Linked DNA regions of Homo sapiens. The protein of the gene in region 1 interacts with the protein of each later gene in a pairwise test. Each region holds a gene or a part of one and is shown in the gene's direction. Other genes may lie near its edges. The genes, in order: DNAJA3, FAM131C, SMAD9 and RNF34.

Region 1 (7,421 bases):
TTCTTTTCTTTTCTTTTCTTTTTTTTTTTGAAACTGAATCTTGCTCTGTTGCCCAGGCCGGAGTGCAGTGGCTCAATCTCGACTCACTGCAACCTCCGACTCCTGGGTTCAAGAGATTATCCTGCCTCAGCCTCCCCAGTAGCTGGAACTAGAGGCATGCGCCACCACGCCTGGCCAATTTTTGTATCTTTAATAGAGACGGGATTTCGCCATGTTGGCCAGGCTGGTCTCAAACTCCAGACCTCAGGTGATCCGCCTCCCCTTGGCTTCCCAAAGTGCTGGGATTACAGGCGTGAACCACCGTGCCCTGCTTAGCCTTCTTTTCTTATGCCGTGTGTTTTGTGCTGTGTGTTGTACGTACCTGAATTGTGCTAGTTTTGTGTCCTCTAGAATTTGTGCAAATGGTATTTAAGCTATCTATAAATTTATAAAGATTAATTAAAGGGCCCTGACAAGATAATTTATACCAACTAACTTCCTGTTGCAATCCAGTTTGTAATAGTTACATAGTAGACAATCATTAAAGTATCAGTAATTGTGGTTACTTCATGCAATGTAAAGAAAAGAGCCTGGGCTTCAGGGGTGAACTTCCCCAGCGTCTGTGAGCGGGGTGTATTATTTAACCCCTTCGAGCACCTGTCTGAAAATTCATTCATTCACAGGTGTTAATTGAGGCCAATTGTATGCCAGCCACTGTTCTGGGCACTGAGGAGATGGCAGAGAACAAAGAGATTGGATGTGTGTTTGGTTAAGAGAATGATTATTTATGTATTTAATTATTTTTTAAGACAGGGCCTCCTGTTGCCCAGACTGGTGCAGAGGCACAATTACAACTCAGTGCAACCTTGACCTCCCAGGTTCAATCGATCCTCCATCCTCAGCCTCCTGAGTAGCTGGGACTACAGGCATGCACCACCACACCCAGCTAGTTTTCTGTAGATGGGGTTTCACCATGTTACCCAGGCTGGGCTAAAGTGATTCCCTTGCTTCAGCTTCCCAAAGTGCTGGGGTTACAGGCATCAGCCACTGCACCTGGCCAACAGAATGAATTTTTTTTTTTTTTGAGACGGAGTCTCGCTGTGTTGCCCAGGCTGGAGTGCAGTGGCGCTATCTCAGCTCACTGCAAGCTCCGCCTCCCGGGTTCACGCCATTCTCCTGCCTCAGCCTTCTGAGTAGCTGGGACTACAGGCGCCCGCCACCACGCCCAGCTAATTTTTTGTATTTTTAGTAGAGACAGGGTTTCACCGTGTTAGCCAAGATGGTCTCGATCTCCTGAACTTGTGATCCACCCGCCTCAGCCTCCCAAAGTGCTGGAATTACAGGCTTGAGCCACCGCGACCGGCCTTATTTTTATTTTGAGATGGACTCTTGCTCTGTTGCCCAGGCCAAATTGCAGTGATGTGATCCTGGCTCACTTCAGCCTCCCAAGATGCTGGGCTTATAGGTGTGTGCCACCATGCCAGGCTAGATTTTTCAACATGAGCAAAAGTGGCCATTTTTAGAGCTTGCTAACATTTTCTAATGTCAAGGTTGTTTTAAATAGAATCTGGCTGCATCTTTTCATTCAAATATTAATCCTTAGGTGACTTGTTTTATTAAGCCAAATTTGTTCATGTTCCAGCTGTACAAATTTGGGAGCACTCGTTATTATTGTGTATGTGAAAGAGAGAAACAGGCACTAAACACTAAGCTTTGTGTGAAGCTGTGACTAAGGAACTGCGGTTAGCTGTCTTGTTCCCCAAGTGAGCTCATAACCTGCCATGGGCAAGTTTTATATCAGGTAGTGTACACAGGTGAGAGGTGGCATCCTTCAGGGTACGTGCTGTTTTCACAGATAGAGTCATCAACTGGTTGGGCGGGGTGGCTCACGACTGTAATTCCAGCGCTATGCTGGCGCTGAGGCAGGAGGATCACATGAGCCTAGCAGTTTGGGACCAGCCTGGGCAACATAGGCAGATCCCATCTCTACAAAAAGATTTTTTTTTTTTTTTTTTTTTTTTGAGACGGAGTCTCACTCTGTCGCCCAGGCTGGAGTGCAGTGGCACGATCTCGGCTCACTGCAAACTCCGCCTCCCGGGTTCAGGCCATTCTCCTGCCTCAGCCTCCCGAGTAGCTGGGACTACAGGCACCTGCAACCGCGCCCAGCTAATTTTTTGTATTTTTAGTAGAGATGGAGTTTCACTGTGTTAGCCAGGACGTCTCGATCTCCTGACCTCGTGATCCACCCGCCTCCGCCTCCCAAAGTGCTGGGATTACAGGTGTGAGCCACCGCGCCCGGCCAAGATTTTTTTTGTTTGTTTGTTTGAGACGGAGTCTTGCTCTGTAGCCAGGCTGGAGTGCAGTGGTGCGATCTCGGCTCACCATGATCTTGACTCACCGTGATCTCGGCTCACCGCATCCTCCGCTTCCTGGGTTCAAGTGATCCTCTTGCCTCAGTCTCCTGAGTAGCTGGGACTACAGGCACGTGCCACCACTCCCAGTTAATTTTTGTATTTTTAGCAGATACTGGATTTCACCATATTGGCCAGGATGGTCTCGATCTCTTTACCCATGATCTGTCCACCTCAGCCTCCTAAAGTGCTGGGATTACAGGTGTGAGTCACCGCGCCCGGCCTACAAAAAGATTTTTAAAAATTAGCTGACTGTGGCCGGACATGGTGGCTCACGCCTGTAATCCCAGCACTTTGGGAGGCCTATGCGGGCGGATCACCTGAAGTCAGGAGTTTGAGACCAGCCTGATCAACATGGAGAAACCCCGTCTCTACAAAAAATACAAAATTAGCCAGGCCTGGTGGCGCATGCCTGTAAACCCGGGTACTCGGGAGGCTGGGGCAGGAGAATTGCTTGAACGTGAAAGTCGGAGGTTGCCGTGAGCCGAGTTAGCGCCATTGCACTCCAGCCTGATCAACAAGAGCGAAACTGTGTCTCAAAAAAAAAAAAATTAGCCAACTATGGTGGCAACTGCCTGTACTCCCAGCTGCTTGGGAGGCTGAGGTGGGAGTTTCACTTGAGCCCAGAAGGTTGAGGCTGCAGTGAGCCATGATGATGCCACTGCACTCCAGCCTGGGCAACAGAGTATGACTCTTTCTCTACCAAAAAATTAATAAAGTCATCAACTGAGAAGCCATGTGGTGGCGAGCCTCTATAGTCCTAGCTACTCAGGAGGTTGAGGTGGGAGGATTGCTGGAGTCCAGGAATTTGAATTTGGCCTAGGCAACATAATGAGACCCCTGTCTCTTAAAAAAAAAAATTTTGAAAAGGTCATTAACTCAGCGTCCAAACACTAGTCTGTGATCTTGTCTCAAATCTAGTAGTAAGATGACATAACAACATTTTAGATGTGACTTTTCTTCCAAGCAGAAAGAAAGCAGTTGTTGGTGGCCAGGTATGGTGGCTCATGCCTGCAATCCCATTACTTTGGGAGGTGGGTTGATCGCCTGAGGTCAGGAGTTTGAGACCAGCCTGGCCAAGATGGCCAAAGCTTGTCTCTACTAAAAATAGAAAAAGTTGGTCAGGCGTGGTGGCGGGTTCCTGTAATCCCAGCTACTCGGGAGGCTGAGACAGGAGAATCGCTTGAACCCAGGAGGCAGAGGTTGCAGTGAGCCGAGATCGCGCCACTGCCCTCCAGCCTGGGCAACAAGAGCCAAACTCCCTGTCAAAAAAAAAAAAAAAGAAAGCAGTTGTTGGACAGTGGGTTGGCCATTCTTAGAACGACTTGGAGGCTTATTTTATTCTGGGTTGTTCTAAAAAGGACAGGACATTTACTGGTCATATGTGATAAAATAAATAGTCTATTAAATGAAATCTAATTATTGTTAATCATTGATGCCCTATGGATAATGTCAAAAGTCATCAGACTGGGGATGGTGGCTCATGCCTGTAACCCCAGCACTTTGGTAGGATGAGGCCGGCGGATCACTTGAGGTCAGGAGTTCGAGACCAGCCTGGCCAACATGGTGAAACTTCTTACCTACTAAAAATACAAAAATTAGCCAGGTGTGGTGGTGTGCGCCTATAGTCCTGGCTACTTGAGAGGCTAAAGCAGAAGAATCGCTCGAACCTGGGAGATGGAGGTTGCAGTGAACCGAGATCACACCACTGCACTCCAGCCTGGGTGACAGAGTGAGACTCTGTCTCAAAAAAAGAAAAAACAAAGCCATCAGTCTTGTAATTAAACGTGATTTGTCTTTATCCACATGCAGTTTTGTGCGTTACTATCTCTGTACTAACTCCTGTCCGTGTTCTCTGCCCGTAATGTTGAAGCCACAGCTGCCACAGGTCACTACCAGCCTCCGCCTTGTGGCATTGGAATGAGTGGTGAGAGAGAGGCTGGACTGGGCCGGGCAACCCCTTACTCCGAAATAAAAAGAGGGTTGAGTACAAGTTCAATAATAAGTCAGGTCTAGTGTTTTCTCAAGTCTGACTGAAGAAACACAAAGTGGTCTCCTGACCCCTACTACTTCCAGTGTGCTTTTTGTATCCCGAGGATATTGGGTGTGCCAAACACACGGATTTATTTCCTATTTCTAATTTTAAGTATCCTGACCATTCCTATCCATTCTCCTGTCTGATCATCCTTTACCTGGCCTCCTACTTGGATGTGCTCAACCAACCTCTGGTTGTGTTTTGTGCTGATTAACTTCGAGTAGTCTCCCAGGCTTCCTAGAGTTGTTTCTCTTTTTTTTTTTTCAGGTGGAGTCTTGCTCTGTCGCCCAGGCTGGAGTGCAATGGCGCGATCTTGGCTCACTGCAACCTCAGCCTCCCAGGTTCAAACAATTCTCATGCCTCAGCCTCCCAAGTAGCTGGGATTACAGGCGTGCACCACCATGACCGGCTAATTTTTGTATTTTTAGTAGAGACAAGATTTCACCATGTTGGCCAGCTTGGTCTCGAACTCCTGACCTCAAGTGATCCACCCGCCTCGGCCTCCCAAAGTGCTGGGATTACAATAGGCGTGAGCCACCTTGCCTGGCCTAGAGTTGTTTCTCATGCAAACCTAATGGGTTCTTTGTTTAACATTTGCAGTGGCTCCCTATTGCTCTTAGGATAAAATCCAGACTCCTTAGCATAGCTCTAAGGCCCTTCCTATTCCTAGGCCCCATTAATCGTTATCATCTCTAACCACCACTACCACCACTGCCATCTAGTTTAGTTATAGGTATAAATCTGTATGGATTCAAAGTCCTCTTTAGCCTATTTCTGTCTCTCTCTCTTTTTTTTCCATGTCATAAGTTTATTTACAAACATCTAGTATGTCATATAAGTTCAAGTCTTTGATCCATTTATTTATTTATTTTTAATAGAGACAGGGTCTCTGTGTTGCCCAGGCTGGTTTCGAACTCCTGGGCTCAAGCGATCCTCACGCCTCAGGTTCCCAAAGTGCTGGGATTACAGGCGAGAGCCACTGTGCCCAGGCTTATTTTTCTTTCTTTTTTTTTTTCTTTTTTTTTTCTGTGATGGAGTTTCACTCCTGTTGCCCAGGCTGGAGTGCAATGGCGCGATCTTGGCTCACTGCAACCTCTGCCCCCCAGGTTCAAGCGATTCTCTTGCTTCAGCCTCCTTACTAGCTGGGATTACAGGCATGTACCACCACATCCGGCTAATTTTGTATTTTTAGTAGAGATGGGGTTTCTCCATGTTGGTCAGGCTGGTCTCTAACTCCTGACCTCAGGTGATCCGCCCGCCTTGGCCTCCCAAAGTGCTGGGATTACAGGCAGGAGCCACCATACCCGGCCCGGCTTATTCACTTTTTAAACAGATTTCATCTATTAAAACACCTCCAGTCTGGGCGTGGTGGCACACGCCTGTAGTCCCAGTTACTTGGGAGGCTGAGGCAGGAGAGTCGCTTGAACCCAGCAGGCGGAGGTTGCAGTGAGCCAAAATCGCACCACTGCACGCCAGTCTGGGCAAGAAGAGCGAAACTCCGTCTCAAAAAACAAAGAAACAAAAAGCCTGCCGGGCACGGTGGCTCACGCCGGTAATCCCAGCACTTTGGGAGGTCGAGGCAGGCGGATCATGAGGTCAGGAGATCGAGACCATCCTGGCTAACACGGCGAAACCCCGTCTCTACTAAAAATATGAAAAAATTAGCCGAGTGTGGTGGCAGGCGCCCGTAGTCCCAGCTACTTGGGAGGCTGAGGCAGGAGAATGGCGTGAACCCGGGAAGTGGAGCTTGCAGTGAGCCAGGATGGCGCCACTGCACTCCAGCCTGGGCGACAGAGCGAGACTCCATCTCAAAAAACAAAAAACCTGCTCTTCCTATCTGTTAAGTGGATGAACTAAAACATCCTTGTTTCTTAAGCAGTTGGTGTCTTGCTATTAAAAAAGGTGCTGTGAATCCAGATCCAAAGTACAAAGTCATCCTAGTTAGTAACCGCCATTTGTTTTCCACTGAAAGTGGCAAATGCTTTCCTGGGCAGCTTAGCCAGTTTCTGCAGCTTAACAGCTGATGCCTAGAAGTTCTTCCCCGACCTTCTTAGATTGATTTGTCATTGGTTCTCAGCAGGGGACACTTTTACTTCCCAGGGGACATTTGGCAATGCCTGGAGACGGGGAGTTCTCTACTGGCATCTAGTGGGTGGAGACCTCCTGAGTTTCTGGTGAATGTCTGGAGTAGGGCTTGAACATCTGTGTTTTCATCAGTCTAATGATGCTGTTGGTCCAGGGAGCGCAGTCTTGAGAACTGCTCCTTAAGTAGATACCCAAGGCTGCAAGATAGAGGGAAAAGAATGTGGGGAGTTGTTAAGCATTAAATGTGACAGAAAAATATGAAAATATGAAAATACCTAGCAAATGGTAAGTGCTCATGTGGCATAAGAGGGGGGAGCTGAATCCCTTTTTAATCATCTCCCAGTCAGGAGTATTATTCCTTTAGTGGTTTACTGAGACCACTCCAGTAGTATAAGCGAGGAGAATCAGCCTCATCCAATACTCTGACATAGTTTAATATTAATTGAATACTGTGGCTTCCTTAGCCATTATTGAAGTGCATTAGGGAACAGCCCTAAAGCTGTAGCCTGTGTATTAGTCTGTTCTCATGCAGCTAATAAAGACATACCTAAGACTGGGTAAATTTTAAAGGAAAGAGGTTTATTTAACTCACAGTTCAGCACGGCTGGGGAGGCCTCAGCGATCGTGGCGGAAGGGGAAGCAAACACATCCTTCTTAACATGGCAGCAGGAAGAATGAGCAAAAGGGTGAGCCCCTCATAAAACTATCAGATCTCATGAGAACTTACTATCGCGAGACCAGCATGGAGGTAACCGCTCCTGTGATTCAGTTACCTCCCATCAGGTCCCTCCCATGACACGTGGGGATTATGGGAACTAAAATTCTAGTTGAGATCTGGGTGGGGACACAGCCAAACCTTATCAGTTTGTTTGTTCCTTCACAGATATAGCCTGGTGGGTCATGTACTCACA
Region 2 (7,421 bases), on another chromosome or scaffold:
ATCAGGGGGGTGTGACTGGGAGTGGGGGTGGCTTTGGCCTTGGTTCAGGCTCTGCAGGCTGAGGCCAAACCCACTGACCACCACCACACCCATCACCCCTAGTAGCTTACCCAGAATAGAGGGGACCTTGTCCTGGGGGTATTGAGCAAGGAGCACAATGACCTTCCCCCATCCTCTGGACTCGAAGGGCTTCTGCTCAGGAGTTCCTGTGGGCATTCAGGTAAGTGGCTCAGGATGTCTCTGGGAGGTATCGGGGTGGAATCCCGGCTGGGGAAGGGGAAGGTACAGGGTCAGGCTGTGTGGGGTTCCTTTACTTATCCATGCATTAAGCTGATATTAACATGATAGCTGCCGTGTGCCAGGCACCGTGTGCATGCTGGGCATCCAGCAGCAAGGAACCCAGCACAGCACCTGGTACGGGAGGCCTGCAGCCTAGCGGGAGGGGAAGGAAGTTTGAAGAGTGAGGAGTGCTGAGGGTTCTTTAGGAGCACCAGGCTCCAGAAACCCCAAAGGTTCTAGGCAGTCTCTGGCTGGGGCCAGCTCCAGGTGGAGGGGATCTGAGTGTTTCCTCAGTGTCCCTTCCCCTTCACTTGGCCACCCCATATCAGGCACCTTGGGGTCCCAGCCCAGAAGGACTGGCCTTTGAGCTGAGAACCCACTGAGCATGGGACAGAGGCCGGGGAGGAAGAGACGCCTGCTAAGGTCACCCTGAGAGGCTGGGGCCCAGGTCCTCTGACCCCACACCTGGGGCTCCCTCCACCGCCCCCTCTGCCAGGGCTCTTTGGGGCCACAGCAGCCAAGATACGCTCTCTCCACCCTTCCTTCTGCAGCCTGGGCTTCCTCAGCGCCCCCCAGATCTAATTGTATAGTCCAGCCTTGTCCCCCTCCTGAGAGGACGGGGCCCCTGGCAGTCTCAACATGCATCCAGGAAAGTTGGGTTGAGGTGAAAGGAATATGGGGAGCCATGTGGGCAGGGGACAGCCAGGGTCCCAGAGACTCTGGGTGGCTGCATCACTGACCCACCCTGCCCTCTCCTTATCACTGATGCTCTCCGAGTGCATACTAGTCTGAAAGTTTTAGGCAGATAAAGCTAGTTTGGGTTATATATGAACACAGTCCCTATCTTACAAGTGGGAAAACTGAGGCAGAGGGCAGTGGAGTGACTTGTCCAGGGCCACACAGCTAGGATAGTATAAGCCAAGATTTAAACCATGGCATGCTGACTCCACAGCCTAGGGCCTCAGTCTCTGCACTCACAGCCAGCCCTCGGCCCTGGTGCCTGCACCTGTCTACTCTCCTGGAGCTGCAGGCTGCTGTGGGCTCCTGAGCCCCCCACCTGGCCCCTGCACCAGCAATCGATTGCTAATCATAGCCTCTGAGCGCTCAGTGCCTCCTAGGCCAGGTAGGCACTGCTACAGAAGGAAGGGTGGAGGGAGTGCGTCCACCCTTGGCCAAGGCCAAGGATTGCAGGCCTCAGGCTGATGCCCATACTGAGCCCAGAGCTTGCACCCAGCTGGGGCCACCCAGCCAAACCCCAAAACCTAGGTCAGGCCACACCTGGGAAAATCACCCCATCCCAGCATCGGCAGCAGTTAGCGTCTGCCTAGTTGGTAGAGAGGCTAGGAGTGCAGAATACGAAGCAGGGCTCCACCATTTACTAGCTCTGTGACCTCAGCAAGTGACTTGACCTTGTGTGTGTATCTCAGTGTTCCCATCTCTAAAATGGGAATTATAATAGTATTGATGTCATAGGGTTGCTGGGCGGACTAAATGGCTTAATTCATGTAAGGCATTCAGACCAGTACCCAACACATAGTAAGCACTCGTACATATTAGCTATTGCTCTCATTTTTACTTTTAATTTTAATATTGTATATATTATAATAGAGACAGGCTCTCACTATGTTGCCCAGGCTTATCTCGAACTCCTGGCCTCAAGCCACCCTCCCACCTCGGCCTCCCAAAGTGCTGGGATTACAGGTGTGAGCCACTGCACCCGGCCTTTAATTTTTATTACCTGTCTGTGCAGACAGCTAATGTGGGCCTTCATGGCTGGAAGGGGAAACCTACAGAGGTTTTAAGCCACATCCTGCCTCATGGGAAAGGCAGCGGGTGGCAGGCACTCGAGGTGCTGAGGACATTGAGAAAGTGATTGGGACCAGATTAAGGCAACAAATGCTGTTTCCAGGAGCTATTTTGCATTCATTATCTATTTTTAAGCTACCGTTTGTTGAGCGCTTATCCTGAGCTAGGCTGAGCCTTTGCTCTCCTGACCTAGTTAGTTCTCATTCAACCCTGTGACAAGGGATGTGGGGCTCAGAGAACGGGAGGGTCTTCCCTCAGGTCACATGGCCAGGGCATGGAGAGGCAGGACTTGAATCCAGGTCAATGTGACCCCAGAGCCTGAGTGTGGAAACCCCGTCCTTTGCTTTCTTACGTCCCTATAGAGAGAGAGGTGCTATGGCTCACGCTTATAATCTAAATACTGGGAGGCTGAGGCGGGAGGATCGCTTGAGCCCACGAGTTCAAGACCAGCCTGTGCAACATAGTGAGACCCCATCTCTACAAAAAACTTTTTAAAAATTACCTAGCTGTGGTGGTGTGTGCTGGTAGTCCCAGCTATTTGGGAGGCTGAGGCAGGAGGATGGCTTGAACCCAGGAGGTCGAAGCTGCAGTGAGCTGTGATTACTCCACCGCACTCTAGCCTGGGCAACAAAGACCCTGTCTCAAAAACAAAAAGAGGTGCTAAGTATATGGCCAGTGCTTAGAAAAACAACCTCTTGGAACACTTGAATGGTCCCTATTTGTTGGGGGCTCTGCAACCAATGGCAGTCTGTATGGAACAGAGAGGAATATTTGCCCCCCTTCTCTCCAGTTCCAGGGGCTCAGTACCCGCTCCATGCCCTTGGTGCCATAACCACTCTGCCTCCTCACTCATGCCCCAGCCCTCTCCTCCAGGCCAACTGATCAGCCTCCTGGCCCCACCTTGGGGGTATCCAATGCACTGGGGGCCGGTGGGGTCGGGGGTGAGAGTAGAAATTAGAGACCGAGAATTTTCTTCTGGAAACTCAGACATCTGATCATGTCTGGGTGAAGGCACAAGCTCTAAGGGGGCCGACCAGAGCCACCCATAGTTTCCAAGTCCTGAGCAGTCCTACACCAGGCACTGAGGAAAGGGTAGGTGGGACCTTGCCCTTCGGGAGCTCACAGTCTGATGAGAGAGGTACAGCTTTGCCCGTGGAGTAGCCTAATGGGGGAGGCAGTATGCATGAACCCTTGGAAGGATGCCCCGAGGACCCTGTCTGGAGATCAGCACTGTTTAGTGGTTGGGGCACAAGCTTTGGAGTTTCACAAGGGCCGAAGTGTGACCCTCATCTCTGCTGCTTATTAGCAGGTGACCTTGCATAAGTGATTTATCCTCTCTGAGCCTCCGTTTCCCTATCTGTAAAATGGGCATAACATGTACTTTGCAGGATTGTTGTGTGGGTTAAATGAGAGATCATGGGTGAACAGGCCTAGGACAGACAGTACCTGACACAGTACTGTCACACCTGCTCAGTAAACAGTGGCGGCAAATCACTGCAGGCCAGACTTTGGCCATTAGGACCACAGGTGAGGTACCTAATCCAGCAGAGGCCAATCTGGGCAGGTTGCTTGTGGGAGGTGAGGCTGGAGCAAGATGTTCCCAGAGGCCAGGTCACAGGATGGGAGGGAGCCTGGGGAAGGAAGTGGGGAGGAGCTGGGGTGTGTGGAAGTCCTGGGGAGGAGCCCATTTTCTCTCTCCATCCTTGCACGGGGAGAGAAAGGGACCCCCTTGGATAGCTCTGAGCTGAGCCAACCCACAGATGAGCTATTGTCACGGCTCAGGTGACCTGTAAACAAATGTCCTGGGGAGGAGGGGACACTCAGTCCACTCGAGGCCTGGCCTCTGCCAAGCTCTGTGGCCTGCTCCCCTGGCAGTGACTCAACAGGCAGAGCGGCCAAGGACTCACCCTCAAGGGCTTCCCTCTGCGGAGCCTCCAGAGCCAGCTCCAGCCCTGGGGACAGGACCAGAGGAGTGGCTGACCAAGATGTGTCCCATTGTCCAGAGAGAGACACTGAGGGGAGAGGGGTGGAGCGGCTGCTGCTTACGGACTGCTTGCTGTGGCAGGTGCTTCCTCCTTGCTGCAGCCCTTTCTGGGCTGGTATTATTTCACAGATGAGAATCCAAGGCTCACAGGGGCTAAGTCCCATGCCCACCCCCTGCAGCGGAAAGTGAGAAGCGGGGACTTAAACCCAGCTCAGGGACCGTAAGAGGAATGCCTTGGCCGCTTACGTTCTCTTCAGAGCCAAGGGCAGAGCCCGGCACATCACAGCTGGGCAGTACACACCCGGGCAATGGTTGGCTAGAGGGGCCGCATCGGCTGCAGGTGCCCTGAGAAGCTGAGCAGAGAAGCCCGAGGCTGGCCGGGGAGGAGCATGAGGGGACGCTTTGACCCCAGGCTGCTGCTCAGTTTCTGTGTGGTTTTGAGAGGATATTTACCCTCCCTGGGCTGCTGCAGAGTCAAACACGGTCCCTCTCTGCCCTCTGGGGTGCAGAGCCCTGGGAGGCACTCTTGGGGTAGATGGCAACCATGGTGACTAATGGGTTGGGACACGGAGCCCCAGAGAACAGCTTAAAGGAGTTGGAAGGCCCTGAAGCAGACGAGAGGAGCCTGAGGGGTTGTGCTGCAGACTCACCCAAGGATCAAGTAGAGAAGACCAACCAGTATGGGAACTGCAACAAGAGGGGTTTAGGCTAGACATCAGGAGGAACTGTCTGGGAGGTTAGACTCTAAAGCAGATTGAAGAGGAGCTGGCATAGGAAGGCAGGAAGCACCCTCAAGATGCAGAGGAGAAGCTCTGGTTGAAGACAGAGGGATGGAGGAGACATCTGGTTGACACCCTCTCCTTGAAGAATCAAGATGGCCCTCTCCAGGTTGCCATGGCAGCCAGAAGCCTGTCACTCTTGTGGACAGAGGAGGTGGGGGAGGGAGCAGGTCTGAGAAGGGAATTCTGACCTTGAGGTCAGGAGACTAGGGTGTGGACTGAAAGAAAGGGGGTGTCCTTCTGGGAGAGGGAGCCACAGGAGCAGGTGCTAGCGGTCCCTTCGGGCTGCCTCCCAGCCCCCACCCCACATGACACTCTGTGTTTTTCCAGTTGCCAGTGGTGACGTGACCACCAGTCCCAGCTGGGCGAAGAACAGCCTGTGATTTCACCCTGGGCTGGTTCATTACCTGACGTCCCCATGGCAACCAGCCTGTGACATCATGGGGCCAAAGTCCTCAGGGGGAGCAGGCAGCTTTGGTGGAGGCACCTGAACCCCAACTGAGGTGGGGAGCCAGGCGGGCTGGGGAGGGGGTGGGAGCCAGGAGTCCTCCAAGCCCACCACCGTCTCAACAAATGACCTTGTTCAAGTCATGCCTCTGCCAGGCTTTGGCATCACCACCAGCCTCCTCTGTGCCCGGCTCCCCTCCCCATCAACCTCGCTCCCTGGTCTGTGGCTGGAGAGTTGTAAAAAAGCTTCAGGGGATGGCCAGGGGTCCTAGAAATACCCTAACACCTCTCAAGTTCCTAGGGTCAGCCTATGGCCAGAGCCACCTGTCTGCACCTTGGCGGGCCCTGGCTTGTACAGGACATGCAGAATTTCCAGAACCTCAGGATTGGCAACTTGCAAACTTTTTTGACTGGACCCATAGGAATAATATATTTTGCATCATGACCCAGAATACACACAGAGAAAATTTTTACTCTGTGTGTGTTGTGCACACACATCTGCACAGACTTGTGTTTGCATAAACAGAAGCTTCATAAAGTAATACTTAACCTGACTTGCAGTGGGCTCTGATATTTTCCATTCTATTCCATTCTATTTCATTAAAATAAGACCTAATTAATAAACGGCTGCATGACCCACTGAAATATGCACCCCCAGTTTGAACATTGCCTTTGAAGGGCCTGGACAACATGGCCTTTGTGGAAATGGAGGCCTTGGAGCCCAGAGAGGGGCAGGACTAGCTCAGGGTCACACAGCAGGGACTCAGGAAAAAGAACAAGATGAGCTGAGTGCTATGGTGTGCAGGCGCACGGCTCAGTCCACAGGATCCCGTGCTGCCCCAGGTGCTCTCACCTCCTTAGGCCTGCCTGGGTCATGGGTGGGGTGGTCAATAAGATCTTTCCTTGGCTCCAGTCTCTGCCTCCAGCCTCCTTGACTAGCCCACCTGCTTACCTTTGGGTGGATCCCAGAAACCTACGGTCTCTTCTGCAAACTAAGTCTAATCCAGTTGGGATGAAAACTTGAATCTCAGGCTGGGCGTGGTGGCTCATGCCTGTAATCCCAGCACTTTGGAAGGCCGAGGCAGGCGGATCGCCTGAGGTCAGGTGTTTGAGACCAGCCTGGCCAACATGGTGAAACCCTGTCTCTACTGGAAATATAAAAATGAGCAGGTGCCCATAATCCCAGCTACTCAGGAGGCTGAGGCAGGAGAATCGCTTGAATCTGGGAGGCGGAGGTTAGAGTGAGTCGAGATCACGCCACTGTACTCCAGCCTGGGTGACAGAGCGAGATTCTGTCTCCAAAAAAAAAAGAAAAGAAAACCTTAATCTCACCTCCAACTGAATGCTTACCTTCCCCCTGCCAGCTGCCCCTGAAATGAGGATTTGGGTACAACTGATATGAGGTGAACCTTCCAGAGGAAGCCAGTAGGGAATGGAGCGAGAGGAGGATGGAGGAGGCCAGCCAGGCAGTGGGGTGGTCTCAGGCCTGGCCTCAGCCTGGTCCTGCAGGGTACTCCGGAGGGTAAGTGAAGGGGAATTTTCGGATCCCAGACAAAAGAGCTGGGGTTCTGCACCTGGTAGTCATTGGCTTGGGGCCACTCTGGGTGGGGCCAACAGAAATTTACCTAGGGCAGCCCCTGTAGAAAGAGCCACAGGTGGTGCCTCTTAGAAGCCATGCAGGGCGCCAGGGCAAAAACAGGAGAAAGGAATCCAGGGGAATTGGGGGCAGCACCCACATGGTCCCCTAACCCCAGTGACACAATCTGGCCTAGAGCATTAAGTCCCTCCGCTGGCGGGCAGAGAGTGAGCGCAGGGACCATTGTCTTCCAGGGAGGGAGGATGCCTGCAGCAGGGGAGCCCTGGGAGAAGGGAGCCGGGAGACCTGGAATAGACCTAAGAGAGGGCTAACAGGATTTGCCGGTTGACTGCGTGGCCCCGGGGAGAGTGGGGGAAGGCAGGACCCTGAGAAACTCCCAGGGTTGTAGTTGGTGCAGTGGGGGATGGGGGGAAGGTGGACCTGGAATTGGGAATCCTCTTTTGCCCAGGTGTGCTTGGGGTGCCCCTTGGGCATCCATGTGGAGAGCTGGAAACTCAGTTGGGAGCTCAAGTGAGGAGTCAGGGCTGGA
Region 3 (7,421 bases), on another chromosome or scaffold:
TCCAGTTGCCAGTTTTCTATCACTGAACAAAGGAATCTGGATAGCATACATGTGGTCTTGCGGCCATTCAAACGTGTTGGTGACATTGGGGATTCTGAGTTGAGGATTCTGACGACTTAGAGTTTGCAAGTAGTAGAAGTGTGAACACTGTGAGGTAGCCACATCCTGAACTCACTGACCCCAGGAGCACATCCCTAGATACACTGGGCCATTTGCCTTAAATGACTGCTTTAATCTATGGAATATCTTCTTCCATACAGCCTGTTTTTTACTTTTCATCTGTTAAAGTGCTTAGAAGCCTATCAAATACAGATTTACTTTGGTTACTGTGTATTTTGATTTGTTTTCACAAAACGCAATAATTGTGCAATGGTTAATGTCATTCTAAAGGATTTTGTCCTACGTACTTGTGGGCTATGGAAAGCTTACAGCAGATTTGCAGGTCTTTTTTAAGAAGCATTTGATGGATGGTAGCGTTCAACTGAAGTGCCAGGAGTTGCTTTCTGAATTCTTGTATCTAAATTTAACTGACTTGGTAGTACCACATTTCAGGAGTTAATGGTAACGCAGAAAGGGATTCACAGATTCCATCAGTTTCCCACTTTGTGGCAGAATATTTGACATCTCTTATCAGTACACTTCATCATAAGTTCATGAATTCATCTTGCTCCTTTCTTTGCTGAGAATCACAGTGAGAGAATTGGAGTTTGGCTGAGAGGAGGAGTGAGGAAGGAAGAAGGAAGAGTAAGTTTTTTTTTGTTTTGTTTTTGTTTTTTGAGATGGAGTCTCTCTCTGTCGCCCAGGCTGGAGTGCAGTGGCACCATCTCGGCTCACTGCAAGCTCCACCTCCCGGGTTCATGCCATTCTCCCGCTTCAGCCTCCCAAGTAGCTGGGACTACAGGCACCTGCCACCACGCCCGGCTAATTTTTTGTATTTTTAGTAGAGACAGGGTTTCACCATGTTAGCCAGGATGGTCTCGATCTCCTGACCTCATGATCCGCCGGCCTCGGCCTCCCAAAGTGCTGGGTTTACAGGCGTGATCCACCGCGCCTGGCCCGAGAGTAAGTCATTTTAAGGCTTGGGCAGTAGCACTGTTGAGAAGTTTGAGGCACCTAAGTGTGGAAAGAGGGTGTTACAGAAAGCAGATTGGCAGATGCCAAAGGTAGACATCACATATTTGAATTAGTGTTAGTAGTATGAAAGGCACCTGCGTTGTGAGTTGAGAGGATCCTAGTGAGCTGGCCAGGGAAGTACATTAGCACTCATGACATTGTTCTAGGGGAAGGTGAATTCCAGTTTCCAAATAACTATGCAGGATTGAACACCATTTGTTCATAAAGCAAGACCACCAGTGATTGATGATATGGGTGATTATTATTAATGACATAAGTGATTATTAGAAGCCAAGAATGGTGGTAATGAATGTGGAAGATGAAAAATGTGTTAAGCTAAAAAGATTTTAGGTCTCATGTGGTTTTCTTTGTCTTGTTTATGCATTTAGTCATTCTTTGTTTTCTAGTGGAAGTAGAATTTTATTTTTAGGAATAGGAGTTGAATAAAATATTTGTCAAAGACAAACATTTATGGACATGAATGCTTCCCTTTCAGCTTATTGACTATATGTTTACACAAAGCAGTCATTAGGTGTTGGCTGTGTTTGCAAATAATGACAAGTTGGTATTATTTCAAAGGAGTGGCAGTTTTACTTGCTTTCTGTTGTCATTGCATCTAATTTTATTACAAGATATTCTAAATACACTTTATTTTTTTAAAGTTGTATTGATTATATCTTGGGGTTTTAAAGTGTTGCAATTTTGTGGGTGTAGCAATCACTTTAGAAGGTGGAACTTGTAAATTTATGGGGCTTGTATAGGATATTCATTCAACCATTATTTACTCTGTGTCTATTGTGTCTACCCTGCCTATGAGGCCCCAGAACAGGCCCTGGGGACTACACAACGAAATGAAGTGACAAAAATAAAATCCTAGTCTCCAGGATTTCATAGTGTAGTTAGCGTGAAAGAGATCAAGAAAGCAAATATTAAAATATTTCTCCAATAGTAAGATGTCTTACTTCCCCAAACTGTAATCTATTTGGGTTTATTTCTCTATTCAGCTGGCCCTGTGAGTCAGCAGTTTCTGCATCAACAGATTCAACCAACCACAAATGAAAAATATTGGAGAAAAAATTAAAAATAACACAAATAAAAAATAAGATATAAAAACCATTTACATAGCATTTACAGTATAGTAGGTATTATAAGTAAGCTAAGATGATTTAAAGTATAAGGGAGGATGTGGTAGGTTATATGCAAATATACCATTTTATACGAGGGACTTGAGCATCCTTGGATTTTGGTGTCTGTGGGGATTCTGGACTGAATCCCCCATAGATACCTGGGGATGACTGTATTTTTCCTGATTAGACTTCCGTATTTTCTGTGTGTGAATTTTTAGTTAGTCTTGTCAAGGATAATGAGAATGATCTCATTTGGGATTTGGGAGGTAAACTAGAAGGTAGAGGTAAAATAGAAGACATAAACAGGAAGAGATTCTTTCAGTAAGTCCTTATGAGAACTTAGAGATGCTGAGAACATCCCTAGGCCATGGAATTTCACTACTTCCTGAGTCTGTCAGGAGGAGGATCCAGCCTTTGTACAGTTTCCTCCTGTTTTTCCCTGCTACCCTTTACTGGTTCAAGGGTGAGTGAGTTTGCATGGCTGGTCCTATAGGAAACCCCACCCAACCCTTTTAGCCAGCCAGGGGCCTCCAGACCACTTTGAATACACTCTTCTAGTAACTGTTGTAATAGTGCACCTATTACTTGCCTGATAATAATATGTTTAGATTGCTGTCTCAATAGTAGTATAGAGGAAAGGGACCATGTCTTATCTTGAAATATTCAGCTGCTAGGGTAGTGTCCACTTCATTGTTGATACTTGAACCACTCCACCTTTCACTTCCCTAAATATGTTGGGTTTTCAACGATCCCACCTTTCTCTTCCCTAAATAGGTTGGTTTTTGTAGGGTAAGGTGGAAGGAAGGGCAAGGAATTTGGATTTAATCTGTAGGCAAAGGAGAACTATTCAATTTTAACCCGTAGTCATGATAACTATTAAATGGTTTGAACAGAAGAATCACATAATCAAAGGGGTATTTGGAAGAGTGAAGACAAATTCAAGTGGTTTGCATGCTTTTAAATGGCCACAACTCCTAGCTAAGCAGTTGACACACCATCTCCACTGCTTCATGCTTCTCTTTAGCAAATAAAAATCTGAGCTTCCCCGACTGGGTGCGGTGGCTCACACCTGCAATCCCAGCACTTCGGGAGGCTGAGGTGGGCGGATAACCTGAGGTTGGGAGTTCAAGACCAGCCTGACCAACATGGAGAAACCCCATCTCTACTAAAAATACAAAATTAGCTGGGTGTGGTGGCACATGCCTGTAATCCCAGCTACTGGGGAGGCTGAGGCAGGAGAATCGCTTGAACCCAGGAGGCAGAGGTTGCAGTGAGCTGAGATTGTGCCATTGTACTCCGTCCTGGGAAACAAGAGCAAAACTCTGTCTCAAAAAATAAAAAATAAAAAATAAATTGAGCTTCCCCGAACAGCAGTTCATAACACGGCTTATTTGTGATTCTTTATCAGTTTATGAACTCCACCCGCCCCCCCCCCCCCCAGGCAGCCTTTGGCCGGGAAACAGCCTTCCTCGAGACACACATCTATAAAATTTTAAAAATTGCCCACACATCATTAAAAATATATATATTAAACAGATGATTTATAGTCATTTAATACTTTACAAGTATTCAGACAGATTATGCTCTATATAATATTACCTTAAGTAGATAGACTATGCATAGGAAGTAGGGAATGCATTATATAATTCTGTCTTTCAAAGAAATTTATTGTATTGCGTTAGTAAAGCAATGGGCTTTAGGTTAGAACTTCAATTAATTACATGGGGCTTAATGATACAATAGTTGGCCAGGTGCAATGGTTCATGCCTGTAATCCCAGCACTTTGGGAGACCAAGGGGGGCAGATTGCTTGAGCCCAGGAGTTTGAGACCAGCCTGGACAACATGGTGAAAACCCTTCTATGAGAAAAATATTTTAAAAATTTAGCTGGTCTTGGTGGGGCGTGCCTGTAGCCCCAGATACTCAGGAGGCTGCAGGGGGAGGATCTATTGAGCCTGGCAGGTTGAGGCTGCGGTGAGCCATGATCACGCCACTGCACTCCATCCTGGGTGACAGAGCAAGACCCTTTTTCAAAATAGTAATAATAATATTAATAATACAATAGTTAATGGTATTGATAAAACTGGATTTTACTTTCATTCATTCAACATTTATTGATGGCCTCCTGCATGCTAGGTAGGTAGTACAGACCACAATGTGGCTTGGCTTGTGGCCTGATAGAAGGCTAGGCATCTCTGGAGAAAACACTTACCAAATCTGGGGATTCAAGTGTGGTAAGTGCTGTTGTGAGTGACTAGCACATGTTAGGTGCTGTGGAAGCCCAGAGGAGCAGCAGAGAGCTGATCAGTGCTGTTGCCTGGGGGCCTCCAGGGAAGGTTTCCAGGAAGTTGGCTTCCAGCTCTGTTTTGAAGAAGGAGCAGGAAAGATAGAGCTGCACAGGGGCCTTCTGGGCAGGGAGGGAAGGAGTGATGGGCAAAGGGAGTGAAAAGAGATGAGGCTGGGAATGTAGTCTGGGGAGGCCAGATTGCGAACAGCCTTATTTGAAATTGATGTTACAGGCGTCAACTCACAACCCCCACCTCATGATATTTAGTGGGCTTTTAAGTGTAAAATGTATGGATACAGACTCAGAGTAGAAATTTGGGAGATTCACTCTTGGTGGTGTACATTCTGTGGGTTTGGACAAGTGTATCATGACGTGTATCCACCATGGTAGTATCAGGCAGAGTCGTCTCATTGCCCTGCAAATTCTCTGTGGTCTGTGTTTTCATCCCTCCCTCTTCTCATATTCACTATGGTTCCATCTCTACATTTGAACATAGTGTATTTGAGGATCCTGGAGTCAATGGTGGTTAAATTTTAGTTTAAAGAGCTTGTTTTTAATTTTTTTTTTTTTTTGAGACGGAGTCTCGCTGTGTCCCCCACGCCGGAGTACAGTGGCGCGATCTCGGCTCACTGCAAGCTCTGCCTCCCCGGTTCATGCCATTCTCCTGCCTCAGCCTCCTGAGTAGCTGGGACTACAGGCGCCCGCCACCACGCCCGGATAATTTTTTGTATTTTTAGTAGAGATGGGGTTTCACCGTGTTAGCCAGGATGGTCTCGATCTCCTGACCTCGTGATCCACCCGCCTCGGCCTCCCAAAATGCTGGGATTACAGGCGTGAGCCACTGCGCCCAGCCGGTTGTTTTTAATTTTTGGGGCACCTCTTAACTCCCACAGTGAAGCCTACAGGAGGAATAAACAGAAGTATACCTCCATGTTGGTAATATACAATATTATCTTAGTTTACAGTTTTCAAACTGCTTTCTCTCACATCCCCTCAGTACTTCTGCACAAAAGGTAGTGACTATTGTTTCCATTTTACAGAGGAGGAAACAATATGGAAGTGACTAATTACTTGAAGATGACAGTGATGGTACTAGCACTCAGACTGGAGTCTTCTTCCTCCATTCTTGTGTTTTATTCATTATATCATGTTGCCTCTTGCTTCTGGAAGCATTAAATTGTGGGCCCTTCCAAACTTAAATAATAAAATAACACATTTGTGGGGTGGCATACAGTGTTTCCAAGAATATGCTGACTATATGTGTGTGTAAATTATATACAGTTTATTACGTATGTGTAAAGAATGTAGGTTGCAATACTAGAAACTTACACCATGATCTCTACAAGGTAGTGCTGGCCTTCTCTTGTATCACTGTTATGTTGGCTTATCACTGAAATGTTTAAATATGATCTTAATATTCAGACTATTACATGGAAAAATATAGAACATTCTAAACCTACCTTAAGTGACCCAAACTATTGGGCATGACCTTTAGACTCCTGTCTTTGCTGCTTTAATGCCCATTCTACTTCCCTTTCACTACATAGCAAACAGGCAATGGAATAGTGGTTCTGTCTTCCAAAGAAGTGATAATGAGCAACAATAAAAACTGTATCTAGTTTCTTTAATTTAAAAAATAATTCAAAATCTCCGTTGAAACTTTAAAAATGATATCCAATCAATAGTAACATTCTAGCCAAAAAAACTGTACGAGTGGCCAAGAGAACTGTATTTTAGGGATGTAAGTAAATGTAGACCAAGGCTTCCCAAGTGGCTTATTAAGTATAAATTCCAGTGACATCTGCTTACCATAGTACTTCATTGCCATGAGCACAAGGCTGCCTGGTAAACCAAGAGTCTTCATTTGGGCCACATATATCCCTTGTAGTCATGGCCTTCAGTTTCATGTGAAATTCAGTGTGAATATAAAAAATCCAGCCGTTATTGGAGAGTCTCTGATTTTACAGTGAGATTGTGTGTGTTCTTTCTCCTCCCACCATAATTAGTTGTTTAGTTGCTAATTTGTTTTTATTTTCACTTCTTTTTTTTCCTTTTGACTATTTTATCAGATGCGATTATTATGTCACTTCCTCTGGGCCACAGTATACCCAAATTCAGGAGTGATGATGATGTATTTTTAAAATGAACTTCAAATATTCTCATATTTAGTTGTGTATTGTAAGGTAAATTCACTTAACCCAATAATATTTTTATGTAGTAGATTCTATTCTGTTATATTCCTATTCCAGGAGGGATCCTAAAGTCAGTTTTATGAAAGAATGAATTTTGAATTTTGTGAACTTTTCAATTGATTTGAAGTCATGGAGACTCTGGGGTATTAGTAAAATTTAGCATAACAGAAATTTGTATTTCTGTCTTCTTTCAGAATGCTCACAGTTGTTGAATCTAGGAATGTTTGTTGTATTTAATTATTTGTTTTGACTGAAGAAATTTTATAGTTTGCATTACAAGAATAACTTGTTCTGAGAAAATCAAGCTGAATAATACTGATTCATGGCATGTAACATTGCTGTTGGATGGTTGTGAAACAGAAAACAGATCTCATTAAAAAAGGTTTCTCTAGAGATTGTTCCATATTTTCTCCCCTTTTTAGTATAGAAGCAACTGTTATTTTAAAAACAGTACTTTCTTCTCCCCCTCAAAACCACCACCATCAGAGAAAATGGATATGTTTACATTAATTGGCACTAAGTAGAAGAAAGGATCTGAAAGGCAGGCAGCCTGCTGGGGATCTCATGGGACTGGCTGTCCTTCAGAGAGGGTGGGCTGCTGAAAGGAGATTAACCTATGTAACTGGGCCTGGGCGAGTGTGAAGATTTCCCAGCATTTTACCTTATCAGGGATTCTGTTTTCTTCCAAGGCTTCCAGGTACCG
Region 4 (7,421 bases), on another chromosome or scaffold:
CCCTCCTCGCCAATCCTATCCTGCCAGGGCACCTGAAGCGCCTCCTTTCTTTCCGCCTTAGCGGTTACCTAGTCGTCATCTCGGAGAGCTGCGCTGAGGGGGGTCGCTTGCCCGGCTTCAGGTGCCCCAACCGAGCCAGGGCAGGCTGCCGGACCCTCTCGAGCTCCTCCAGTGCCACCCCCGTCAGCGACCCGAGCGGTGGGGAGAAGCCGGGCGTCCCTAGCGTTCGCGCCGGGTGGGCCCCTCTCTGCGCCGGGCCCTGTGCGCCTCCTCGGGGGCCTGAGGCAGAGCCGCCAGGGCTCGCCTGAGCCTCGGTCCCTTGGCGCGCGGCGTGCCCTTTCCCGCCCCGAGTCCTTGAACTAACCCAAGTGTTGGGGACATCGTGGGACCGAGGAGAACAGGAGGGGTGCAGGGGGTGGTGAGGCTAGGGCCAGGCTAACGGGTTAAAGAACTCTCAGGGTGGGGATGCCACCCGGAAGGGGTGCTTCGTAGGCTGCACGTCGGGGCCGCGAACTAGAGAAGGCTGGATGTGCCTCCATCGCCACTAGGTAAACGCAGCAAGGAATTTGGCAGCTTGAGTTCTCCAAGGTGGGAGTGAGAGCGTGGGAGCATTACTGATGAGAAGTTGAAGAAAAGGGGAAAGGGGAGCGGGGTTTCCGGCCTACTTCTGAGAGATGATTCTCAACCCGATCACTGAGAGTTCTGAAGAGCTTTGTGAACAGCAGTCAGTTCAGGGTATTGATTCATTTGCCGAACTCAAACCAAGTGGGATGAGTCATAAGGTGATGATAACTTTCAGACCTAGATGGTTTCGTTAATCTCAGTGCAGAGGTGTGCTGGGGGTGGGTAATCTAGCAGGTGAGCTGCTAGATTAACGCTGTCTCCATAAAGCGTCAAAGATTTACTATAGAAGATTGAAAAAGAGTGTCAGCTGGTCACAGAAATTCAGCACATGTTTTGTTGAACGTTTTCTGTGCGTTAGCCAAGAGGGAGACATGGTGAAGAGAAGTAATTCAAAATACAGTCTCATCCCTTAGGAAGGCAGTTTACCATTCAAAAGAAGAGTTATTTGTAAGTAACCATATTACAAGGCAGAAGGCTATAGGTATCAAAAAAAAAAAAAAAAAAAAGGCAGGGACAAAACACAGGAGCCAGAAAGGATACTTCTGGCTACAGAAAGCAAGGAATATTTTTGGAATAGGTAACTTTGGAACTGTGCCTTGAAGTATGAGGATATTGTAAAAGCTTATTTTTAACTTTCCAGTTTAGTTATAAAATATTATTACAGCTTGAAATATCTATTAAAGTATCTAGAAGTAGCTTTATTTCCTGAAAACCACCCTCTGCTGTGTTAAGATCCAAAAACAAAGCAGGGATCTTTATATATAATGCCTCGAAGAATCAGTATCTTTATTAATATTAAATTTGTGGCCCATTAAGGAACTAGCTATCGAAGGAAAGAATTAGAGACAGGTCCAGTGTTGAAATTTTTAAACAAGTTCTTTGAAAACAGACGTGTGTTTTGAATTGAAGTGGAAGGTACTACTTTCTAAGATGAAATTTTAGAAACAAAGTTTGGTGGCAATTGAAATTATAGAAAAGATACGTATTTTCAGAAGCAAAATATGGACCTGAATAGACATCAGCCTGTGCCAGATGACAGTTATAAATGATGCTTTTGTTTTTGTGAAACTGGATTTACACCATTGAGGATTTGGGCTGTTAAATGTTTATTATTTAACTTAATGTTGATTTATATTGAAATTGTTTAATTGTGGGTATGCTCATCTGTAGATTTCTGGGCAGAGACTGATTCCTGATGTCATGGAATGCTAACATGTGAATGTTCATGTAAGGAAATACTTCTTTCTGTGGAATTAAAATTACATTAAAAGCTAAGCAAGTATACCTGGCCGGGTGCAATAGCTCACGCCTATAATCCCAGCACTTTGGGAGGCCAAGGCAGATGGATCACTTGAGGTCAGGAGTTCGAGAACAGCTTGGCCAACATAGCAAAACCCTGTCTCGATTAAAAATTATTTTAAAAAGAAAAAAAGGAAAAAAAAAGTTAAGCAGTTAAAAATAAACAAGAAAAGCTAAGCAATTATATGGATAAGTACATGTTCACTCAAACCTGGAGCAGCTGGTTTTAGTATATGTACGGAATGGGTATTTACTTTCTCCCTTTGGCGTTTTGGTTTGGTTTGGTTTGGTTTGGTTTAGAAACTGATGTTTTGAAATAGGTCTTACCTCTCAGACTCAAGTAACTTTTTAACCTTGCAGTAACATCCAATCAACTTCCTATAAGGGATTAAAAAAAAAAATCCAAATTGGTGCCCTGTGTTAATTTGATTTAATCCTCTTTCCCATTTTTCCTTATTTATATTGATCTCACCATTAATTGTGCTAATCTGGGTTCTTCCAAGCTCAAAATGAGATATCAAGGAGAAAGTAATCTACTGAATGTAATTCCTTTTCCTTTTTTTTTCTCTGAAAGGTGGGGGAGTGGTACTAAGGATCAAGTATACTGTTAAAAGAAAACAAAAACCCAAGCATGAGGAAGGTAACATTTGTATCTATAGCACATGTTATTGTAATAATCGATCAGTTTGGCCAATGTCTTGTCTAAAAGTATTACATTTTAGAGTTCATCATCTGTTTTTGCAACCTGCTTAATGTCCAAATGGTATGAGAGAAATAATTTAGGATGTAGAATTCCTTCCTTTGTGGTATATGGTCGGATATTTGGTCACTAAGAAAGAGTTAGGTCCCTGCATATTGTATTTCAGTTGAAGCAGCAGTTTTGATAAGAAATCCTTTCACATTCTAAGGAGCATATGTTTCTCAAATGGCTCTAAATAGGATAAAGAGGCCGGGCGCGGTGGCTCACGCCTGTAGTCCCAGCACTTTGGGAGGCCGAGGCAGGCAGATCACAAGGTCAGGAGGTTGAGACCATCCTGGCTAACACAGTGAAACCCTGTCTCTACTAAAAATACAAAAAATTAGCTGGATGTGGTGGCGGGCGCCTGTAGTCCCAGCTACTCTGGAGGCTGAGGCAGGAGAATGGCGTGAACCCGGGAGGCAGAGTTTGCAGTGAGCCAAGATTGCGCCACTGCACTCCAGCCTGGGCAACAGAGCAAGACTCTGTCTCCAAAAAAAAAAACCAAAACAAAAAAAAAAAAGGATAAAGATTTTGCTTTTTTATCAACTGTTTTTTCTGCTTTGCTTTTAGTTATGTAGGAAAGTTTAACCTAACCAAGATTAAACTGTAAAACCGATTATTTTATATCACCGTTGCTAAGATTTAATACATCTTTTTCCTGTCGTTTAACACAGGACATTGAGTTTTAGCAAACTGAAGGTTGTCCAGAGTTTGAAACAAACCCTGGACATATAGTGGGTGAGTTCTCTGAGGAAGCTTTCATTGATGGAAGAACAGTATCGCTCCTTGGTCCTTGTAGATTCATGTAGCATCTGAGACAATTATTTTTGAATTTAAAACTTCTAGGTTCATCCTTAAAATAACTGTGTAAATAATATATTTAACTTAGAGTTATGGCAAGCAAGGTAGACGCTTATGAGAAGAGTCTATGGGTTTATTATTACATTGCTATTTACCTAGTTTAATAAAAAGTGAATGACTGTGTAGTAACATATTAGAGTTTTGGCAAGCAAGATAGACTCTTACGAGAAGAGTCTATGGCATTATTATTACCTTGCTATTTACCTAGTTTAATAAAAAGTGAATGACTTAGATCATTTAGTTTTCTGTTTCTTTTTTTTTTTTTTGAGATGGAATCTCACTCTGTCGCCAGGCTGGAGTGCAGTGGCACGATCTCAGCTCACTGCAACCTCTGCCTCTCGGGTTCAAACAGTTCTCCTGCCTCAGCTTCCCAAGTAGCTGCCATGCCCGGCTAATTTTTTTTTTTTTTCTTCGTATTTAGTAGAGACGGAGTTTCACAATGTTGCCCAGGCTGGTCCCAAACTCCTGAGCTCAGGCAGTCCACTTGCCTTGGCCTCCCAAACTGCTAGGATTACAGGCTTGAGCCATGGCACCTGGCCTAGTTGTCTGTTTTCATACTCATAAACTTTCTTTTCCCACTCTCCCCCTATACTTCTCTTGTGTCTGGCTGTCATTTAATCTTTTTTTTTTTTTTTTTTTTTTTTTGAGATGGAGTCTCTCTTTGTTGCCCAGGCTGGAGTGCGGTGGCACCATCTCAGCTTACTGCAGTCTCCGCCTCAAGTGATTCTCCTGCCTCAGCCTCCTGTGTAGCTGGGACTACAGTTGTGCACCACCACACCCAGCTAATTTTTTTTGGTATTTTTAGTAGAGACCGGGTTTCACCATCTTGGCTAGGCTGGTCTTGAACTCCTGACCTCAAGTGATTCTGGCCTCCTAAAGTGCTGGGATTAGAGGTGTGAGCTACTGCGCCCAGCCTGTCATTTAATCTTCATGGAAACTACCATAGCTTTTCTGATTCTTCGTTCTAGTCTGGCTGGTTGATAATATATTTAATGGAATCATTAAAAGTTTAGGGTTGAAAATTTGTGGTAAATTTGTGAATTCTTTAAATTGAGCATTTTGAAGTATTTTCTCCCCACAGGGATTCTGAAAACATATTAGATTATACACACACAGAAGCAAAGACAGCTGAACCTTGAGGCCATTTGAAAATCCTGGCACTGTGCCAGAAAGAGAGCTGGGCTGCTGCTCTTGCAAAGAAACAGAACACCTTTCCTCTTGCTTTTGTTGACTGTAATGATGTTTCATGGGCTTATATTGTTTGACTCTGACTGAGGAACCTGAGAGAGTCCTTATAACCTTATTGGCTGGAAACTGTCATTCCTACTCTTACGCAGATTATTTAGGTTTGTATTCTTTCCCCTCCCATTTGCTTCCTCTCCTTTGCTCCTACAGAGGGGAGGGGGCTTCTAATTCATTTTTGGGGAGGGAACAGTATGGGAGAAACACTGTCAGTCTCTGCTATGGGAGGAAAAAGAGGGACTTGAATATTGAGGAGTTTCAGTGAAGGAACTGACATGCTTGGCTCAGTACTTTCTGGGACCTTCTCACATTTGTCTTCCTGTAGTGAAGATGGAGTTCTGGTCTCCACTCAACTAGCTGGTAAGCTGCTCTTGGTCAGCTGTATATTATCCAGACTTGGCTACAGAGCTAAGGTTCTGTTCTCCAGTTGATGCTATCAGTAAAAACAAACATTTTAATTTCCATTTGTCTTCTTGCTTTTTTTTTCTTTTTGAGACAGGGTCTTGCTCTGTCACCTAGGCTGGAGTGCAGTGGTGCAATCTCTGCTTACCGCAACCTCCGTCTCCCAGGTTCAAGCAGTTCTCCTGCCTCACCCTTCTGAGTAGCTAGGATTACAGGCATCCACCACCATACCTGGCTAATTTTTGTATTTTTAGTAGAGACGGGGTTTCACCATGTTGACCAGGCTGGTCTGGAACTCCTGACCTCAGATGATCCTCCTGCCTCGGCCTCCCAAAGTGCTGGGATCACAGGCGTGAGCCACCGTGTCCGGCCTCTGTCTTATTTCTTTTTTTTTTTTCTTGAGACGGAGTCTTGCTCTGTTGCCCAGGCTGGAGTGCAGTGGTGCAATCTCGGCTCACTGCAAGCTCTGCCTCCCAGGTTCACGCCATTCTCCTGCCTCAGCCTCCTGAGTAGCTGGGACTACAAGTGCCTGCTACCACGTCCAGCTAATTTTTTGTATTTTTAGTAGAGACGGGGTTTCACCATGTTAGCCAGGATGGTCTCGATCTCCTGACCTTGTGATCTGCCTGCCTCGGCCTCCCAAAGTGCTGGGATTACATGAGCCACCGTGCCCGGCCTGTCTTATTTCTTAATTAGCTCCAAATTGGATGTGGAAAAAAGGTACTGTTACTGGCTCCCTAAAATCTTGGTGCACTGTCTTTGAAGAAAAGAGGAGAACTGGCATTGGATACCAGAATGACATGAGGATATCTAGGTGTCTGAGGCAGTCCAGGCAGGTTTTAGAATTTGATTTCTTATTATGGAATGTGTAAGTTGTTGTTGTTGTTGTTGTTTGAGACAGACTCTTGCTGTGTCGCCCAGGCTGGAGTGCAGTGGCGTGATCTCAGCTCACTGCAGCCTCCGCCTCCCATTTCAAGTGATTCTTGTGCCTCAACCTCCCCAGTGGCTGGGACTACAGGCACTTGCCACCACGCCTGACTAATTTTTTGTATTTCAGTAGAGATGGCGTTTCACCACGTTGCCCACGCTGGTCTCGAACTCCTGAGCTCAAGCAATCCGCCCACTTCAGCCTCCCAAAGTGCTAGGATTACAGGCGTGAGCCACCGCGCCGGGCTGGTGTTAAGTTTTTAAATACGATACCTGGTTTTTAACTGATATAAGCCAGGCAGACCATGGTCCTATGGTGGCTCTACTGAGAGCAGCTTTGGCTTAAGAGAGTGGGTAGGAAAGGGATTAGACTATCAAGAACAAGTCATTTATTTTTAGTAATCACTGATGACTAGAAAATAAACTCCAAACACAGGTGAATTCTCTGAGCTTGGAGTTTTGTGCTAGGCATAGGCAGACAGTTGCCTCATTCTCTTATTCTCTATGTTGTTTTAAACTACATTCATGGTCAAGAGAGGAAATTTAGCTATCTTCACGATTATCGTTCTTTTTTAAAAATATAATTTCAACTTTTAGATTTGGGGGTACACGTACAGACTTGTTACATGGGTATATTGAGTGACGCTAAAGTTTGGGGTACAGTTGGTCCCGCCAGCAGGTAGTGAACACAGTACCCAACAGTTAGTTTTTCACCCCTTGTTCCTTTCCTCCCTCCTTCCCCCTCCCCCCAGATTATTGTTCTTTCTAAACTGTTAGAAAAAGGGTTATACTTCTTACATACCACTTGGATGCATGTGGTATAACCCATGGAGTTTTGCTGCCAACTAAGGTCCCCAAGTAGGTCATGAAAGCCCAGATCATGGCTTGCATTTTGAAAGTTCCAGACTTTTCAGAGATCTGGCTTTGGGCTTTATTCACGGAGGAGTAACTGTAGGGTTTTTTTCCCCCAATGAACAAATAATGGATGGTGACCCTTCCATAAAGAAGGCACCACTTTGGAATTGAGGCCAGTGAATTGACTGCAAATTCAGAAGCCAAAAGGGTATGCCTAGTATACTGTCAGAAGCCAGAGGTGGGGGTATGCCTAGTATACAACAACTCAGTGAATTGACTGCAAATGCAGAAGCCAAAGGCATATGCCTAGTATACAACAACTCAGTGAACTGACTGCAAATTCGGAAGCCCAAGGGCTACGCCTAGTATGCTGTCTTTCCAGGAATTGAGTTTTCTCAAAATCTAGGAGGAAATGGAGTGGTTTGTAGAAGATGCTTCAATCTTACTATCAGTATGGAAGCAATGAATGAAT

Evidence for each region.
Region 2: the proteins of DNAJA3 (region 1) and FAM131C interact in a two-hybrid assay, tested with the Homo sapiens proteins (one large-scale study listed by BioGRID and IntAct).
Region 3: the proteins of DNAJA3 (region 1) and SMAD9 interact in a two-hybrid assay, tested with the Homo sapiens proteins (one large-scale study listed by BioGRID and IntAct).
Region 4: the proteins of DNAJA3 (region 1) and RNF34 interact in a two-hybrid assay, tested with the Homo sapiens proteins (one study listed by BioGRID).

The regions. Positions count from the first base shown.
Region 1 is NC_000016.10:4,426,907-4,434,327, forward strand, and holds part of DNAJA3 (dnaJ homolog subfamily A member 3, mitochondrial), read left to right. Parts: intron 1-7,421. UniProt on the Homo sapiens protein: Modulates apoptotic signal transduction or effector structures within the mitochondrial matrix. Affect cytochrome C release from the mitochondria and caspase 3 activation, but not caspase 8 activation.
Region 2 is NC_000001.11:16,065,091-16,072,511, reverse strand, and holds part of FAM131C (protein FAM131C), read left to right. Parts: intron 1-7,421.
Region 3 is NC_000013.11:36,907,874-36,915,294, reverse strand, and holds part of SMAD9 (mothers against decapentaplegic homolog 9), read left to right. Parts: intron 1-7,421. UniProt on the Homo sapiens protein: Transcriptional modulator activated by BMP (bone morphogenetic proteins) type 1 receptor kinase. SMAD9 is a receptor-regulated SMAD (R-SMAD).
Region 4 is NC_000012.12:121,400,245-121,407,665, forward strand, and holds part of RNF34 (E3 ubiquitin-protein ligase RNF34), read left to right. Parts: intron 1-1,794; exon of another isoform or gene 1,795-1,851; intron 1,852-2,497; exon of another isoform or gene 2,498-2,554; coding exon of another isoform or gene 2,555-2,563; intron 2,564-4,604; exon of another isoform or gene 4,605-4,869; intron 4,870-7,421. UniProt on the Homo sapiens protein: E3 ubiquitin-protein ligase that regulates several biological processes through the ubiquitin-mediated proteasomal degradation of various target proteins.